Homo sapiens: one gene and its partner. The protein of the gene in region 1 interacts with the protein of each later gene in a pairwise test. Each region holds a gene or a part of one and is shown in the gene's direction. Other genes may lie near its edges.

What was found.
Region 2: the proteins of MAP3K13 (region 1) and PRDX3 interact in a two-hybrid assay, tested with the Homo sapiens proteins (one study listed by BioGRID).

The regions. Positions count from the first base shown.
Region 1 is NC_000003.12:185,357,298-185,367,508, forward strand, and holds the start of MAP3K13 (mitogen-activated protein kinase kinase kinase 13), read left to right. Parts: upstream 1-5,838; 5' UTR 5,839-6,071; intron 6,072-10,211. UniProt on the Homo sapiens protein: Activates the JUN N-terminal pathway through activation of the MAP kinase kinase MAP2K7. Acts synergistically with PRDX3 to regulate the activation of NF-kappa-B in the cytosol.
Region 2 is NC_000010.11:119,167,413-119,176,732, reverse strand, and holds the end of PRDX3 (thioredoxin-dependent peroxide reductase, mitochondrial isoform a precursor), read left to right. Parts: intron 1-2,140; coding exon 2,141-2,282; intron 2,283-2,860; coding exon 2,861-2,996; intron 2,997-4,247; coding exon 4,248-4,351; intron 4,352-7,390; coding exon 7,391-7,556; intron 7,557-8,199; coding exon 8,200-8,253; 3' UTR 8,254-9,013; downstream 9,014-9,320. UniProt on the Homo sapiens protein: Thiol-specific peroxidase that catalyzes the reduction of hydrogen peroxide and organic hydroperoxides to water and alcohols, respectively. Plays a role in cell protection against oxidative stress by detoxifying peroxides.

The DNA.
Region 1 (10,211 bases):
ATTAGCTGCATGTGGTGGCGGGCGCCTGTAATCTCAGCTACTCAGGAGGCTGAGGCAGGAGAATTGCTTGAACCCGGGAGGCGGAGGTTACGGTGAGCCAAGATCGCGCCATTGCACTCCAGCCTGGGCAACAAGAGTGAAACTCCATCTAAAAAAAAAAAAAAAAAAAAGAAAAAAAGAAAAAGAAAGAAAGAAAGTAGTATGAATTCTATGTGGATGAGTAAAGTAATCTATAAAGTCTTCTTTTGCTCTTTCAGTGTATAAAGTACCTTTGCAAACTCAGTATATTATTTTTAATCCTGCAAAGGTTTGGTTTATGGTATTTTGCCAGAATTTGTATGTTATGGAATGGTGTATTTTGGGGATGGTAAATATTTTATTAATTGAGAAATCCATCTGCTTTTGATTTGCTTCAGTACATTTGTGTTATCAGTCAGAGAAGAATCTTATATCCCTCATTGGTAATCATCCTTTTGACAGGAATAACACATTAAAGCTTCATTAAGCTGTTAAGACTTATTCTGAATAGCACATAAAATCTCAAGCAATTGCTTTTCTCCAGCTGGCTAGATATTTTATTATCCTTTAATTAAAAATATTGAATAGTTAAGTCTAATTAACTCACAATATTCTTTAAAGTTTGCCATAATGTGTACCTTTAATATAAAGATGACTGTAGAATTTAACATGAGGCTTTAATCTTCTTAAAAGTTTACAGATATGTATTTAGTGCAAATTTTTATTTATAGCATACCTTTTCAAAAAGTGTTTGAAGTGCTTATCATAAAAAAGAATGTATATAATAAGGTTAACCATAGAGTAATCCAACCCAAAACAAGGAAGAGAAAGCAAGTATGCATGTAAATATATACTTTTGTGCTTAGCTTATTTTAAAGCATATGAATTTTAAAGTTGGCTCTGAGCTTCCCAGCAGCAGGGTCGAAAAAATGAAAATTCAGTGGATTACACTGTTATCATCTAAAAGGTAGACAGACACCTAATAATTCTTCAAGAACAGAAAATTTTTCCTTCATATTAAGTTGTAAAACAAATTCTCCATGTGAATTCCTTACATGGGAGATATCATTCAAGATAATGGACAACACAGAAGCAATATGAATCTTCCTTATAATAATTTTTAATAAAAGCAAGACCACAACACTCAATGATAGTTATTCTTCTAAGGGGTATTAGGCTAATGATATTTAGATAGCATGTAGCTTTCTGATGATCTCCCTTGACACAAGGATAGATTTGAGTGAACTTATAAGAATGTTTTTCCTTAGATGTTTCTTAAAAATCACTTTCTCAGATAGGCATTTAATGGGAGCTGGACAGAGAAAAATGGCAGTATTAATAATAATCTGCTGAGGTCTTTGAATATTGAAATTCAGTTATTGACCAAGGCTCCATATACTTTGGAGTGGAAATAGGGTTAACATTCTGATATGAAAGTGGAGAATTCTGACCAGTATTCCCAACTAGGAGACAGATTGTTTTCCAGATTAATTCACATCATTTTATACAAACTACATCTTTATGTAGAAAAATGTAGCTGCTTTTTAAAAACAATGAATAGAGCTCTTGATCAGCTAGCATAACTACCTGAAGGTTCCCCTGATCTGTTTCAGAACCCCAAAGATATTCCCCAACCACCTGAAGGAAAATGACTTGGATGAACTTCCCTTTGGAAGTTGGGTCACTAATAGATATTTTTAGAATTTCCTGAAAAGATTTTGTATTAGTCTGTTTTCACGCTGATGATAAAAACGTACCTGAGACTGGGCAATTTACAAAAGAAAGAGGTTTAATTGGACTTACAGTTCCACATGGCTGGGGAAACCTCGCAATTATGGTGGAAGGCAAGGAAGAGCAAGTTATATCTTACACGGACGGCAGCAGGCAAAGAGAGAGTGAGGAAGATGCAAAAGTGGAAACCCCTGATAAAACCATCAGATCTTGTGAGACCTATTCACTACCATGAGAACAGTATGGAGGAACTGCCCCCATGATTCAATTACCCCCCACCAGATCCCTCCCACAACACATGGGGATTATGGGATTACAATTCAAGATGAGATTTGGGTGGGGACACAGAGCCAAACCATATCAGATCTGTTCAAGATTTATTATAAGCAAAATAAAGATGTTGTATTAGTTCCTGTGGTTCTGATTCCTGGATCTGCACAGTTGTTGAAATTTCCCTTGTTGAGAGAGTAGCAGGGTCTCAATAACAAAATAAAACCAGCTACCAGTATCATTTACTGAGTAACTTCTGTATGTAGGTACTGTGTGCAAATCTTTACATGTGTTATAATATTACTTTAACCTTCACACAATAATATAGGCTATTATAATCCCCATTCTAATAATGAGAAAACTGAAACTCAGGTTTACCTGAATATTCATAACTAATAAGTGGCAGAAATAGGATTTGAGCCCAGATCTCTTTACCAGCTTTTAACCACTACACACTTATCTGTGAAGGAAATTTGAGTCTCCACGTATTAGCATTTGAGATCACTAAACTCTTTCTTTTTCCTGGTATTTCTGACAAAAATTGCCCATGGGTCATGATACTTTGGACTTCGATTCTGGCTTAAATGAGTTGTTTTCCTTTTTTAAAAACACATTTTTTTCCTCAAAAAAAAAAAACTCCAAAACAAGAATAGCTTATATTTTATAGCAGAATTATTGTACCTTAATTTCTATATATAGATTTTTATCTAATAATGAGTTTTAAATATCTTCTTGCATAATGAGACTAGAGTCATTTTCCAGTTATTACTGAAGTTTGAGGAGATTCATTTGGTTCTTAAAAGAGCTTACTCACCTTGATAATGGCTTTGCAGTCCTCCACACTTAGTATGCCCATGTGCTGCAATTAAAAATTACTTATAATGATGGGACTTGGCTTGATATCTCTAGAGTTGCATTGTTGCATACCATAGCCACCAGCTAAATGTGACTATTTTGGAGTTAAATAAATTTAAATCACTTTACATTAAAAATTCACTTCCTCAAGAACACTAGCCATCTTTCAAATCTATGGAATGCTCCATAATCACAGCAAGTTCTCTTGGGCTGTACTTCTCTAGAGTGTACATTTTTCATGCCTCTATATCCCTTCCTACCTTCTGCTTCTAAAATGATAATGACTTCCTCCAAGACTGACTTCTATATCTTCCATAATTTGGTGAGACAGCTTATCTTTCCAATGATTTCCCATGATAGTTGACATGGAGGAGTCTTTGTTGGCCTAGCTGATGTTCCTGTGGTACAGGAAGCATGCTAACTGAGGCCAAGTTTATCATCTTACTGAAGTGGCAAGTCCATAAAGCCCCCAAGTTTTTATTTTCCAGGTTATATATTGAGCCAAGAATCTTAGGTGACTGTTATTAGAAGCATTTATAGACCCTGTTTTGTTGAATTGCTTCAGAGACTACTCCCATCCATAGTGGACTTATTAGTAATTTTGTTGCTGTCAAAACTTACAGAAAAACTTCTACAACAGCTTTAGCTTTTTTTTTTTTTTTTTTTTTTTTTGAGAGAGGGAGTCTCACTCTGTCACCAGGCTGGAGTGCAGTGGTGTGATCTCAGCTCACTGCAACCTCTGCCTCCCAGATTCAAGCGATTCTCATGCCTCAGCTTCCCGAGTAGCTGGGATTACAGATGTGTGCCACCATGCCCAGCTAATTTTTGTATTTTTAGTAGAGATGGGGTTTCACCATGTTGGCCAGGCTTGTCTCAAACTCCTGACCTCAGATTTTATATGTATATGTGTATGTGTATATATATATATGTGTGTGTGTGTGTGTGTGTGTGTATACACACATATATACATATACATATATACAGATTTTATATGTGTGTGTATATATTATATATATATATACACACACACACAAATTGATGTTTCTTGGCTATTTTATTGACATAGTCCACAAAAAGTTTGCCTCTTTCCATTAGTTAGTCTGTATTGTTTTGGAAGAAAAAAATGTTTTCCATAAATCTGATTCTTTTAATGTATCCTGATTGGCTTTGGTTGTTGTTAAATAGAGATGTATATTCTTCAGCTTTCCATTTGTTCGTTTTTTGTTTTTTTTTTTTCTTTTTTCTTTGAGACGGAGTCTTGCTCTGTCACCCAGGCTGGAGTGCAGTGGCAAGATCTCGGCTCACTGCAAGCTCCGCCTCCCGGGTTCACGCCATTCTCCTGCCTCAGCCTCCCGAGTAGCTGGGGCTACAGGCGCCCACCATCACGCCCGGCTAATTTTGTTTTTGTATTTTTAGTAGAGACGGGGTTTCACCATGTTAGCCAGGATGGTCTCGATCCCTGACCTCGTGATCCGCCCACCTTGGCCTCCCAAAGTGTTGGGATTACAGGCATGAGCCACCGTGCCTTGCATGTTCGTTCTTAAATAATGTGGTACACTGAGGCCTACTGGGCGTGTACCAATGCCGTATTTGCCTTGAGCACTCCCATGTTACATGTGTAAACTTCTTTGGTCTATCTTTTTTGTAGTGATATTCCACAATAAGCTCCTTTAGAGAAGTTTGTTAACTATGTTGTTTGCCAACGATATTCTATTGCTTCAATATAGACAGTACACTGAATATCTTTGCTGTGTGTAAAATTATCCTGAAAAGTTTTCCTTTTCCAAATGAGCTAAGAAGTGTGCAATACTTACTAGTGGTCAGGTTTAGACCCTCCAGAACCACTTAGAAACAGGCCACCACTTTCCTTCTCTCACAGTTGTATAAATAATCTGATTGAGAAATAGAGCAGATCTCTGTTCAGAATGTTCTTGGTCACTGGACACCTCATAACTGAGGCTTTATATTAACCACGATCGTTCTAGTTTCAAGGATTGAGGCCATTTCCCAAGTTCAGAAAAATCATGATCAGTATTTGTCAAGTATTAGTCATTGTGAAGTGTAGTGATGGGGAGTAGGGACAATAAATATATTCATCTCCAATTTTGTATAACTGAAAAGTGTAAAAATAAAGAAGAAAGAGATGCCTCTTGAGTGAATTTAATACAGCTGTTTTTGCTGTTAATAATAAAACATCTTACTGAAACCAAAATTTGTTCAAAGTTTCATTAAGTGCCCTTTTGGAGCTGTGTCTTAATCGACTGCCAGAAGTTGAATAAACCAATGAGGAAACACTGTACCCTACTTAAAAGTAGCAGTAAATTTTTCTTCCATATCCACTTTTGATACATCATGAAGGTCAGCAAGATGTTACTGCTGTGCAAAACAGCTACATTCGTGTAATATTATTTTCCATATGTCTGTTTTCTTAGTTACTAGATTATTGTTCCCATGCGTTCTTCCCGACAATTTTGCTTTTACAAGTCCCGACAATTTTGCTTTTACAAGTCGTGGTGAGCAGGGCATACATGTCCACTAGTCTGCTAGTTTTAGAAATGGTTTTCCTGACTTTGATTTGTTTTGATCGCATCAGGCATATTGCTGAACAGTAAGAAAAGGGTTGAAGAAAAGAGTTCTAATGAATAAAAGATGGGATTTCTTCTATATGCATTTTTGTTATCCTTGATTCCACAGAAATTCTATTTTGATTCCTTCATTCAATAACAATAATAATGTTTTTATGACTATCACAGCTTGAAACACACACACACACACACACACACACGCACACACACACACACACACACACACTCAAGCTGCCAGTCTGTCTTAAGGCAGTGGCAGATGCCTGATTGGCGGGCTCTGTTTATTCTGTGACCAGATTCCTTCTAAAAGAAGGAAGGCCATGTCTGCCTGAAGCCTATTGGCTGGGCCTACTCTGGACCCGCCCCTCTTTTTTTTTTCATGACACACACCACAGCGAAGTCTGTGCGGAATCCTAAACCAGCCCAATTTACATCCATTCATGAATCTGTGACGTCAGCAAGCCTTTGGGCTCCTTTGCGGTGGGCTGGAGGATTGTGTGGGTGGAATCCCCCTCCCCTTTATTTTTCCAATTCTGCAAGGCTTTTAAAATTCACCTTACATCTTTTCAAAGCAAGAAAATGGAACAGCATGTGTAGGAATTCTTCGTTGTTGTGAGTATTGCACTCTGTTTTTCCTGTTTCTTCAGTATTTATTTCACAAGGACAGACAGAGAATGTGTGATTTGAGGTGATTAGAAAGCTGATATTATTGAGGGCGACACCGTGAGAGAGACAGAGAGACAGAGGCGGAGAGAAACCCGAAACCCCGTTACAGCTAGGAGCCTCTGAAACTGACAGCTGGTTTTCCTTTGCTTGTCTGCCTGCTAGACGTGGACATTTTTCATTTACGGTTCTGCACGTTACCTCGGATGCCTGCTTGGCTTTCCTTAAAGGGAGATTCATTTCTCTGAGAGATGATGTGGATGGTATTAGCAGAAAAGCCCAGAACACCAGAAAGGTGCTGAGAAAAGCGGGGCCCGCAAGACAGAGCAGGTTCTATCCTGTGGGGCACTTGTCTTCCTTGCGACCGTCCTTTCTGCCGTTCCTCACCCTTCACCTTGCCTTTGTTTCATATTGTGTAACAGTCAGTATCTTGCGATTGCAATTTGGTGAAGATGAATACTTGTTCAACCATTTTTCAAAAGCTCTTATGACGGGAGCCATAGTGGTGTATTTATATATATTCATAGCTCTTCTTTATGTCACTCTCTACACTTTATAGTGTCAAAAACTTAAAAAGCTGCATTCGAGGGAAAGGGGGAATTATCCTTAAACTTGGGTTTTTCAATATCCTCTAATGAAAACTAAGAAGTGGTTACAATGTTCCACAATTATATTGCATAGAAATGCACATGAGTGTTTTCCTAAGATGAACTTATTAGCTGAAAATAGTTTATTCCACTGTGTTGGGGAAACATGGAAAAGTTCTGATATGTTCCATGTATAAAGTTGGTTTGGTAGTTTGCTACTGTAGTTTTAACAAAAAGTTACTATTTGTGATTGAATTTGTTTTCCAAGGGTCTGTTTATTCTGGTGAAAGTTGTGAGAGTAAAGAAGAGGGATGTGACATTGTGACATGTTCTGCCCCTGGGGCAGCTCCTCAACCCGAATAATCTGACAGCATTTCCCAACTGCTTCACTTTGAGCGATTTATATGCCAGTCTGCAGCATGTACCCAGTTGTTCTTTCTCCTGAGAAAGCAAAATGCCTGATATTTCTTATAATCCAGGCTGCCATGTTTACCTTGTAAAATCAATACTTAATTTTTAGATTTTTATATTATCTTTTCTCGTGAAGCAAGACTTCTAAATTATGGCTATAATATCTTTTGAATTGTTGTTCTTAATGAATCTTCCAACTGTAAACTCATCTAATTTCAAACTTATCATACCTGAGGATGTAACATTGTCTTTTGTTTCTCATCTTGATATTACCGTCAATCATTTTGTATTTCTGAGTACATTTGAACTTGCTGGAGTAATAGAGGGAAAACCTCTGCCTGATTCTAAATCAGATCTTTGTCCTATACTCGGACAATTATGGTTTCATATTTTATTATTTTTTATTTTCTGGGTTTAACAAATGAGATAACATTTTAGACATAATATTTGTAAACATCTTGACTTATTTCAGCATTTTCCTTTTTTGTATATCTTCAGAGAGTTTGTTGAAAGTAGCAATTTCCAAGTAATTTTAAATTATTGAAGTCTACTAGCACGAAAGGTCAAATTCTTAGGATATTTAAAAAATGTTGTTTAATAATCAAACTCATCTTAAAAAATGTTCATCAGACTCTGTCTTTGATGCACATTTTGCCAAAAGAGAGCCTTATTTCTGTGAAAGAAATACAGTATGTACTTTGGATTTACTAAAGTAAAACTGTTACTTTAAGGCACAGAGCAGATATAGAATCCCCCTCTCTCCCCACTCCTAGTGACTGTATTCTACATTATATTTATCTTCATGTATAGTGTACTTGTAGGGAAAAAAACAATAACTCTTAATTGTTTAATATCAAACAATAAAATCCTGTGTATCAGTGACTGTCAATAGATGGCTTTCTGTTTAAAAACTGAAGCTACTCCAGAAGTAGGAATTAATTTATTTAGTAAACAAAGTCAGTCAAACCAGAGCCATGTCCTGGGGAACTGTCAAAAGAATGGTTCCTAAGGGCCAGAGGCCACATCCACTGGTAGATGACAGAACAACCATACTTCAGATGGCAAAACCGGTCAGTTTGGTTTGCGTTGTGTGCCTATCCTCTTTCTGTGTGCTTCAGCTGAATTAAGTGCTTGGAGAGCTCAAATAGTTCAAGATAGCCAAGATGACCAATTCTGCCAGGTGGCAGCCTGATCTTGCAATTTTGATTAAAATAAAGAACATTCCCCAAGAACAGTTTGTTGCAAAAAAATAAAAATAAAAAAATCACACCCTTGCTCTGTGTTACTATTCTGTAAGAATATGGGGGAGAAAAAAATTTAGAAAATGCAGTCTTTACTCTGAAGGAATCTAGAAAGGAAAATGCCGGAAATAAACTTCAGTATTAGAATTACCTGTGGAACCTTTTTCCCTTCCCTCCCTACCTCTTTCTCCCCATCCCCTCCCCTCCCCTCCCCTCCCCTCCCCTCCCCTCCCCTCCCCTCCCCTCCCCTCTCTTCCCCTCCCCTTTCCCTTCCCTCCCTCCCTCCCTCCCTCCCTTCCTTCCTTCCTTTCTTTTCTCTTTTCTTTTTTCCTATTTAATGGTTTTTAGTATGTTCACAGAGTTGTACAATCATCACAATCCATTTTAGAACATTTTCATCATCACAAAAAGAAACCACATACCCATTAGCAGTCACTCCTCATTTCTCTTCACCCCCCAGCCCTAGACAACCGCCAATCTGCTTTCTCTATATATAGATTTGCTCAGTCTGGATATTTCATGTAAATGAAATCATACAGTACATGCTCTTTTGTAACTAGCTTATTTCACTTAGCATAATGTTTTCAAAGTTTGTCCATGTTGTAGCCTATATCAGTACTTCTTATCTTTTTATTCCCAAGAAATATTCCAGTGCACCATATTTTACTTATCCATTCATCAGTTGATAGATATTTGGGCTTCCGCTTTTTGACTATTAGGAATAATGCTTCTATGAACATTTGTGTACACATTTTTGTGTGAATTTGTTTTAATTTCTCTTGGGTATATACCTGGGACTTGAATTGCTGGGTCATTATGATTACTATATGTTTAACATTTTCAGGAGATGCCAAATTGTTTTCCAAAGTGGTTGCACCATTTTACATTCCCATCAGCAATGTATGAGGGTCCAGTTTCAGCACATCCTCTTCAACACTTGTTATTATCTATCTTTTCTATTAGAACCATCTTAACAAGTTTGAAATGGAATCTCATTGTGGTTTTGGTTTATATTTCCCTAAAAGTGAATGATGTCAAGGATCTTTTTATGTGCTTATTGGCCATCTGTATATCTTCTTTGGAAAAATATCTATTTAGACACATTGTCCACATTAAAAATTAAATTATCTTTTAATCCTGACTTGCAAGTGTCCTTTATATATTCTGGACACAAGCTCTTTATCAGATGTATACTTTGCAAATATTTTCTCTCATTCCATAGGTTGCCTCCACTTTCTTGATAATATTGTTTATGGTATAAAAATTTTTAATTTTGATGAAGTTCAGTTTTATTTTCTTTTGTTGCCTATGCTTTTGGTGTCATATCTAAGTTGGCTTTGCCTGACTCAAGGTCATAAAGATTTACTTCTATGTTTTCTTCTAAGAGTTTTATAGTTTTAGCTCCACATTTAGATCTGTGACTCATTTTGAGTTATTTTTTGTGTGTGCTATAAAGACAGGGTTCAACTTTATTCTTTTGAATCTGGATATTCAGTTGTTTGAGTAATATTTGTTTAAAAGACTATTCTTTCCCCCATTAAATTGTCTTGGCACCCTACCAGGGAACTTAAAAAAAATACTGATGCCATGCTTCCACCTCCAGAGATTTATATTTAATTGGTTTGTGATGGGACCCAGTGATGATGTATTTTTAAAAAGCTTCCCAGCTGAGTCTAATGTGCAGCCGGGCTTGAAAACTATTGACATGCAGGGTCTTAGAACAGAAGAGAGAGAGAGACTTTCAGAATCAGGAAAGAAAATGAGCGAAAACATAGCATTCTGATATGAAAAGGAGGGAAGAAAGGAAAATTAAGAAGATTCATACCAGAAAGCTTGAGTTTTCTTGTTAT
Region 2 (9,320 bases), on another chromosome or scaffold:
ACTGGGAGCTCAGATGCCTTCTGAGTCTAGTGTGTCTGAAGAGCTGTGAGTGGTGGGCAGCCTGTGGGGGACCTGAGAGGGCAGCTGCTCTAAGATTCAAACCTGTGTAATGGCCCCAGCTGGCCACTTAGGAACCAGACCTGTCTAATGGTATCTGTAATCTGAGCGAAATTTAGCTGTTTCTTGAGATTTACACTCCCTTCTCTAGGATATGGGCTTTGCTAAGATCAGCCTCAGATAATGAGTGGTATTTGAAAATACCTTGTCTAGATTTGACTAGCCTTTGAAAAAGCCCGTATTTAATATGTAATGGTTTGTGGGGATATACTTTAGTAAAGCCTTTGTTTGTGGGCAAAATGTTCTAAGAGCTTTCGCAATTTTACTACCCTGGAGCTTCAAAATATTTCTAGTAGTGATGTGATACCACAGGCTTAAAACTTTACTCCACTGGTTTCGAATCCTCATCCCCAGCAGCGCCTCCTGTTTCTGTTCATGGCGGTGTCAGGCATTTTGACATTGGAACTACTCTGTCGCTCATTCCTGGGTAGAAGCAAGTCCTTTTCAGTTTTGACACATCTCTTGCATCCATTCCTTTCTGTTCTTTCTGCCCCATACCTCCCCTCAATACGTCTAAGATCACTGAAATCGAGGCTGGGCACAGTGGCTCACACCTGTAATCCCAGCACTTTGAGAGGCCAAGGCAGGCGAATTACTTGAGGTCAGGAGTTCAAGACCATCCTGGCCAACCTGGTGAAATCCCGTCTCTACTAAAAATACTTAAAAAAAATAAGCCGGGTGTGGTGGTGTGCTACTGGAATCCCAGCTACTTGGGAGGCTGAGGCAGGAGAATTGCTTGAACCTGGGAGGCGGAGGTTGCAGTGAGCCGAGACCATGCCACTACACTCCAGCCTAGGTGACAGAGCGAAACTCTGTCTCAAAAAAAAAAAAATCACTGAAACCACCTCCTAACATGTCTCCCCCTTCCTCCTGCTCCTCTTTCCCTCCTGCCGGACTAATCTTCCTAAAAACCCCCATCTCAGCCAGGCACTGTGGCTCACGCCTGTAATCCCAGCACTTTGGGAGGCCGAGGCTGGCAGATCACGAGGTCAGGAGATGGAGACCATCCTGGCTAACACGGTGAAACCCCATCTCTACTAAAAATACAAAAAATTAGCCGGGCGGGGTGGCGGGCGCCTGTGGTCCCAGCTACTCGGGAGGCTGAGGCCGGAGAATGGCGTGAACCCAGGAGGCAGAGCTTGCAGTGAGCTGAGATTGTGCCACTGCACTCCAGCCTGGGCGAACAGAGCGAGACTCCGCCCTTGACTCTGTTATCTTTCCTGCTAAGAAGACCCAGCAGCCTAGTATTTAAGGACTGTTGCAACATGGCCTTCAACCATTCCTGCCTGCTGCCTGCTCTTCACTCCGTACCCTTAGACACTCTCTGTTCTCATTAGACTGCCACACGCTGCTCCACACACATGTCCTGTCTTCCTTCCTGCTGTTTCCTACATGCCATCTGCCCCATCCCATCTAGACTTGACAAAATCTGAACCATATTTAAAATCCATCTCTAGTCTCATGTCTTCCTTAATTCTATCCCTACTTTGTCTTCCTCTTTTTAGTTTCTGTAGCAGTTGGAATTGAATTTGTGCACAATCTAAAACTATAGAAGGAGAAATTACAGTTGGCCCTCTGTATCTGGATTCTGCATCTGTGGTTGGTTGAATCGAAAATATTGGGAGGGAAAAATGGATGGTTGTGTCTATACTGAACACAAAGTCTTTTTTTCTTGTCATTCCCTAAACAATACAGCTTAACGACTATTTACGTAGCATTTACGTCGTATTAGGTATTATGAGTAATCTAGAGATGATTTAAGTATACTGGAGGGTGTGTGTGGATTATATGCAAATCACCACTTTATGTAAGAGACTTGAGCATCTGTAGATTTCGATATCCTAGAACCAATCCCCCCACAGGTGGCAAAGGATGACTGTGCCTAAGATGTACAGTTGAACCGAATGTTTTGATTTATACTAAGCACTTTATACTACTAATTAATTATGAGAAGTTTAAATAAAATCATAGGTGCTTGACATAGCAAATGATGAACTCCATATGAGTGTGGGTTTTTTTTCAGGTTCCTCATGCCATGCACCTGCTGTCACCCAGCATGCACCCTATTTTAAGGGTACAGCCGTTGTCAATGGAGAGTTCAAAGACCTAAGCCTTGATGACTTTAAGGGGAAATATTTGGTGCTTTTCTTCTATCCTTTGGATTTGTAAGTGTAATTTCTATGATGCTTTCGTGTCATTCTGAGAGCAAGCACATATCCTGTTCCCACACTGAATTGTCTATCCCTAGATACCCTTGTGAAAGGAAGGATTCTTTCTGACCCTTTATCACTGATGGCCTTGTTGATTACAGCTGGGATCTGTAGCTTGTTTACAAGTGATAAACTTCGGGGGTGGGGTAGGACAGCTTTCTTTATAGTACACCTCTGTGCTCTGGAGCACTGCTTCCCTAAGCCAGTCTATGAAAAAGTTTTCACTGGTCTGGGGAAAAATGAGAAAAGTAGGCATAATAAAATGATTTTTTTCAAAAAGCAACTTTATTGAACTGTAATTTTTTTTTCTTAAAATATGTGTTCCCTTTCCCCATTTTTTGATACAATTCCTAAAAATAAAAAGGTGAGGGGAGGTAGTAGTACTTTTGCCAGCACAACACTATAGTCCAGTGAGGATGGTAAACCATTTTGCCTTTTTTACCCTTAGCAAGTTGAACTAGTTGTTAGACCACTAATTGTTAAAATCCTTGTTTTTAAATGCTCTAATGAGAATTTCTATCCTTTTTTTCCAGCACCTTTGTGTGTCCTACAGAAATTGTTGCTTTTAGTGACAAAGCTAACGAATTTCACGACGTGAACTGTGAAGTTGTCGCAGTCTCAGTGGATTCCCACTTTAGCCATCTTGCCTGGATAAATACACCAAGAAAGGTATGGCATTGTACCCCTAGCTTTTGCTCTTATAAACTTGCTTGGAAGAATCTAAATTTCTAGCTATGCTGCTGGACTATCAAGATCAAATTACGCAAGGGTTGGGTTTTTTTTTTTTTTTTTTTTTGAGACGGAGCTTCACTCTTGTTGCCCAGGCTGGAGTGCAATGGCACAATCTCAGCTCACTGCAACCTCCGCCACCTGGGTTCAAGCGATTCTCCTACCTCAGCTTCCCGAGTAGCTGGGATTACAGGCATGTGTCACCACCCCTGGCTAATTTTGTATTTTTAGTAGAGACGGGGTGTCTCCATGTTGGTCACGCTGGTCTCGAACTCCTGACCTCAGGTGATCCGCCCACCTTGGCCTCCCAAAGTGCCGGAATTACAGGCATGAGCCACCACACCTGGCCTACTCAAGGTATTTTTTTTATTATTACTCTTCCATGTCTATGTTTGAGAAAATTAGCCTTTAAAAGAATGCTTTAAGAATTAGAAAAAGCAGCCGGGCGTGATGGCTCACGCCTGTAATCCCAGCACTTTGAGAGGCCGAGACAGGTGGATCACAAAGTCAGGAGATCGAGACCATCCTGGCTAACACGGTGAAACCCCATCTCTACTAAAAATAAAAAAAATTAGCCAAGTGTGGTGGTGGGCGCCTGTAGTCCCAGCTACTCGGGAGGCTGAGGCAGGAGAATCGCTTGAACCCAGGAGGCGGTGGTTGCCATGAGCCAAGATCGCACCACTGCACTCCAGCCTGGGCGACAGAGCGAGACTCCATCTCAAAATAAATAAATAAATAAATAAAATAATAAAGAATTAGAAAAAGCATCTGTAGTCCCAGCTACTCAGGAGACTGGGGTAGGATGATTGCATGAGCCCAGGAGTTTGAGGCTGCTGTGAGCTGTGATTGCATCACTGCATTCCAGCCTGGTGACAGCGAGACTCTGTGTCTTAAAAAAAAAATTGGAAAAGGTCTATAGTATTAGCCGGGTGTAAATCTTCCTTCTGCTCCTTTCTAGCTGTGACCTGGAACAAGTTACTTAGGTTTTTCTTGCCTCAGTTTCCTCATTTTGATAGTGTCTTCTCCAGGGTGGTTTCGAGGAGGCAGTAGGTTAATAGAGTAAGCAGTGCTTGGCCCGTTGTTGAATTACTGTTACCTATCGCCGTTACTGTTGGTCTCAAACATTGTGGTACGTGGTCAAGAATGTTGTGAGGCCACACATTCTAACAGTCATGTTTGCATTTTGATTAGAATGGTGGTTTGGGCCACATGAACATCGCACTCTTGTCAGACTTAACTAAGCAGATTTCCCGAGACTACGGTGTGCTGTTAGAAGGTTCTGGTCTTGCACTAAGGTAAGATCCTGTTTCTGATGAACTTAAGATTATTTTTCATGTTTAGTATCATTCTGCTTCTTAGGGGATTTATGTAGACCTTGGTAAAGCATTTTTAAAACCAGAAGATCCTGGCTGGGCATGGTGGCTCATGCCTGTAATCGTAGCACTTTGGGAGGCCAAGGCGGGAAGATCACTTGAGTTCAGAAGTTCAAGACCAGCCTGGGCAACATAGTGAGACCTCATCCCTATTATATTAAAAAGAATTAAAATTTATAATAATCAATCCTTAATTTTAGTCTTTAATAAACACTGATGAAATGCCTCCTGCAAGGGTTGGCGGTCTCTCAGAAATGCTGAGACATGCATGTCCCCTCCACCACCTTGGGTCTCTTTCTGAAGAAGGCTGGCTGCGTCTTGAGGCCACACTGCTCCATACTCCCTAACTATGTGGGAGCCACTTCCATGGGGACACACACCTGACATTGAAGCCATCAGACTCTGCAGAAGGGGGGACTAGCAGGGTAAGAGGTAGTCTCTTGGAATGGTGACCATCTTCAGCCCTGGAACCAAACAATCCTTGGTTTGAGTTTTTCTTTTTTTTAACTCAGCTACTTAATAGCTGTGTGACTTTGGGCAACTGATTTGATTTAACCTTGTTGAGCCCCAGTTTTCCCATAACTAAAATGAGGTGGTACGTCACAGGTGGGTGTGAGGATTAAATAGTGACACAGCTAGAGTTTTTAGCATAGTTACTGGCAGCAGTTGTTAGGATTTCTGCCCCAGAACATCATTTCTATCTGTATTCAGTCCCTTATTAAACCTTTATTCCTTTGAGTGTGAAAAGCTTTCAGTCCTCAGCAGCCCCACATTCAAACATAACCTTCCTGGGAGGGATGAGAACTTGGGTCTTAGAATTGGCATCTTGAAGTCTGCTGAGAATAGGAGTGAAGGAGGGATAGGGCAGAACTTGACCTCCAGGAAGGAAGAGAGGGGATCCCCCTTTGATGTGCTGTGCCTCACAGTTTTGCTGGGGGCTGGTCAGCTTAAAGCCAGCTCACCTGGCCGGGCGCGGTGGCTCAGGCCTGTAATGCCAGCACTTTGGGAGGCCGAGGCAGGTGGATCACGAGGTCAAGAGATCGAGACCATCCTGGTCAACATGGTGAAACCCCGTCTCTACTAAAAATACAAAAAATTAGCTGGGCGTGGTGGTGGGCGCCTGTAGTCCCAGCTACTCGGGAGGCTGAGGCAGGAGAATGGCGTGAACCTGGGAGGTGGAGCTTGCAGTGAGCTGAGATCGCACCACTGCACTCCAGCCTGGGCGACAGAGCAAGACTCTGTCTCAAAAGCAAACAAACAAACAAACAAACAAAGCCAGCTCACCTGCCTGTCTTGTAGGTGACCTCTGGCCTGCTCTTTCTTGGGTTACACCTTGGGTTTTAGCGCTGAGTGGCATCTTAGAGTTTGGGCCTTTTTTTCCTCTCTTTTTTTTTTTTTCTTTTCTTTTCGAGACGGTGTCTTGCTTTATCGCCCAGGCTGGAGTGCAGTGGCGTGATCTCGGCTCACTGCAACCTCCACCTCCCGGGTTCAAGCAGTTCTCCTGCCTCAGCCTCCCGAGTAGCTGGGATTACAGGCACACGCCACCACGCCCGGCCAATTTTTGTATTCTTAGTAGAGATGGGGTTTCATCGTGTTGGCCAGGCTGGTCTCAAAACTCTTGACTTCGTGATCTGCCTGCCTCGGCCTCTCAAAAGTGCTGGGATTACAGGCATGAGCCACCGCACCTGGCAGACCATTTTTTTTTTTTTAAACTTTAAAGAGATTATCAAACGAATGCCTAGGTCTTTCAGAATTGTCAATGGCCAGAGAAAGGGTACTGGCTATTTTTCTCCTACGGTCCCTTTCCCTATGAGAACTCACTAATTTTGCAGTTACCTCTGTACCCGTTTTAATATTGAGATTAACAAGAGAGAGAAGCTGAGTCTGGCTTATAAGATAAAGACTTTTGGGAGTCTATGGGCCCTGCTCTGTCCCAGCTCTGCCTCACCTTCTATTGGTGGACTTCAGCTGGCTGCACCCTCTGGGAACAGTTTCACCTCAAACCCCAGGCTCCCAGTGCCTGACCCAGGGAGGGAGAAGCATCTTTTATCCTGAGTTTTCTCTAACCTGCCTTTTCCATGAGTGATTGATACCTGAAATTTCCACATCCTTTTAAGACAGACTGTTAAAACCTGTAGGTTAAATAACCGGACACAGTGACACACACCTATAGTCACGCTACTTGGGAGTCTGAGGTGGGAGGATCAGTTGAGCCAGAAGTTCGAGGCTGCAGCCTGCTGTGATCACACCTGAGAAGAGCACTGCACTCCAGCGTGGGCAATACAGTGAGACCCTATATTTAAACCAAACAACCAAAAAAACTTCTAGGCTAAACATATCTGCATCTGTCACAGTAACACCAACACAGAAGATAAACACAGACCACTGTGGTAGCGTGGTTCATCTCATTACATGCTGCTACATGATTAAAAGTGATGGGCATGGTTTTCTGTTTTGCATAGACTTAGAGCCTGTACATTCTTTCTATGAAGATTTTTCCCGTGGGATTTCCCCCCATTTACCCAATAATTCATTCATAATAAACAGTTGTTGAACCTAGATAAAATACACCTCTGTCTCTTCCCATTTGCCTATAAGTTTCTTGCCAAGATGTGATACAGCAGCTCAAAGAATGCTTGCCAAGTCACTAATAGTCTTTGCTCTCTCTAGTTCAGTGACTTTCCGATACTGTGTAACATTCAGGGCACTATGTGAACTTGTAAGTGTGACCATACTGCATGTTTTATGGTGACCTGGTCCAGTACTGCCTTTGTTAAAGCATCTGTCATCAGTAAGAGATGATAAGTTTTTTGCACAACAGTGAAAACCCCACCTTTAAGCATATGATTACGCTTAATAAATATTTTATTAAAAGGAGAATTAAAGACCTAAAAGGGAAGAAGTTAGACTGTTCTAGTTCTGGTACTGTTGAGGCACTGATGAGGATAAATGATCATGCAGAGGTCTCTTCATAATTGACCCCAATGGAGTCATCAAGCATTTGAGCGTCAACGATCTCCCAGTGGGCCGAAGCGTGGAAGAAACCCTCCGCTTGGTGAAGGCGTTCCAGTATGTAGAAACACATGGAGAAGTCTGCCCAGCGAACTGGACACCGGATTCTCCTACGGTAGGTTTTTTTCCCCAAAAGCAGTGAGGTCCATGTTCTCTCAGCCTCGAGAGCTATTGACCTGAAATATCCACAAAAGGGAGCCCACTCTTGAAGCAAGCGTGCAGATGATATGCAAATGGGTGAAGCTGCTGTGGGGTAGAGGGGGTGGGGTGGGGAGCCAGGAACCAATTATCAGAGACAGGCAGGCCTTTTTTTTTTTTTTTGAGACGGAGTCTTGCTCTCGCCCAGGCTGGAGTGCAGTGGCGCTCTCTCAGCTCACTGCAAGCTCCGCCTCCTGGGTTCACGCCATTGTCCTGCCTCAGCCTCCTGAGTAGCTGGGACTACAGGGCGCCCACCACCACGGCTAATTTTTTGAATTTTAGTAGAGACGGGGTTTCACCGTGTTAGCCAGGATGGTCTGGATCTCCTGACCTCGTGATCCACCCGCCTTGGCCTCCCAAAGTGCTGGGATTACCGGCGTGAGCCACCGTGCCCGGCCTAGAGACAGGCAGGCCTTAATGAAACTTTCATCTTTATGTTTTAAAGGAAATCTTTAAAAGTTTAAAGAACTTTAGGTTAAAAATTGGGAGATTGCCACTCACTTTTGGGACTATTATTATGGTAAAGTCACAGTTACCTAATTAAGCTTTTGTATTTTCAGATCAAGCCAAGTCCAGCTGCTTCCAAAGAGTACTTTCAGAAGGTAAATCAGTAGATCACCCATGTGTATCTGCACCTTCTCAACTGAGAGAAGAACCACAGTTGAAACCTGCTTTTATCATTTTCAAGATGGTTATTTGTAGAAGGCAAGGAACCAATTATGCTTGTATTCATAAGTATTACTCTAAATGTTTTGTTTTTGTAATTCTGGCTAAGACCTTTTAAACATGGTTAGTTGCTAGTACAAGGAATCCTTTATTGGTAACATCTTGGTGGCTGGCTAGCTAGTTTCTACAGAACATAATTTGCCTCTATAGAAGGCTATTCTTAGATCATGTCTCAATGGAAACACTCTTCTTTCTTAGCCTTACTTGAATCTTGCCTATAATAAAGTAGAGCAACACACATTGAAAGCTTCTGATCAACGGTCCTGAAATTTTCATCTTGAATGTCTTTGTATTAAACTGAATTTTCTTTTAAGCTAACAAAGATCATAATTTTCAATGATTAGCCGTGTAACTCCTGCAATGAATGTTTATGTGATTGAAGCAAATGTGAATCGTATTATTTTAAAAAGTGGCAGAGTGACTTAACTGATCATGCATGATCCCTCATCCCTGAAATTGAGTTTATGTAGTCATTTTACTTATTTTATTCATTAGCTAACTTTGTCTATGTATATTTCTAGATATTGATTAGTGTAATCGATTATAAAGGATATTTATCAAATCCAGGGATTGCATTTTGAAATTATAATTATTTTCTTTGCTGAAGTATTCATTGTAAAACATACAAAATAAACATATTTTAAAACATTTGCATTTTACCACCAGTAACTGTTGGATCAGCTTATTTTGGGCTCTCCTTTCCTTCTCAGATTATCAACAAACATTTATTGAGCATTTACCTCAGGGGCCACAAAGAGAATAAGATGCTGGTTCCGCACTCAAGGAACTCGGTTTAGGGGCAAGACAGATAGGGAAACATTTTCTCGTTGTTTCAGTAAATCCTTGAGTGCCTACCCCGCACCAGGTGCTGTTTTCCAGGCACAAGAGCGAACAACGGACAAACCCCTGCTTTTAAGCTCTTACATTCTAGAGGGGAAACACCTCATACATGTAG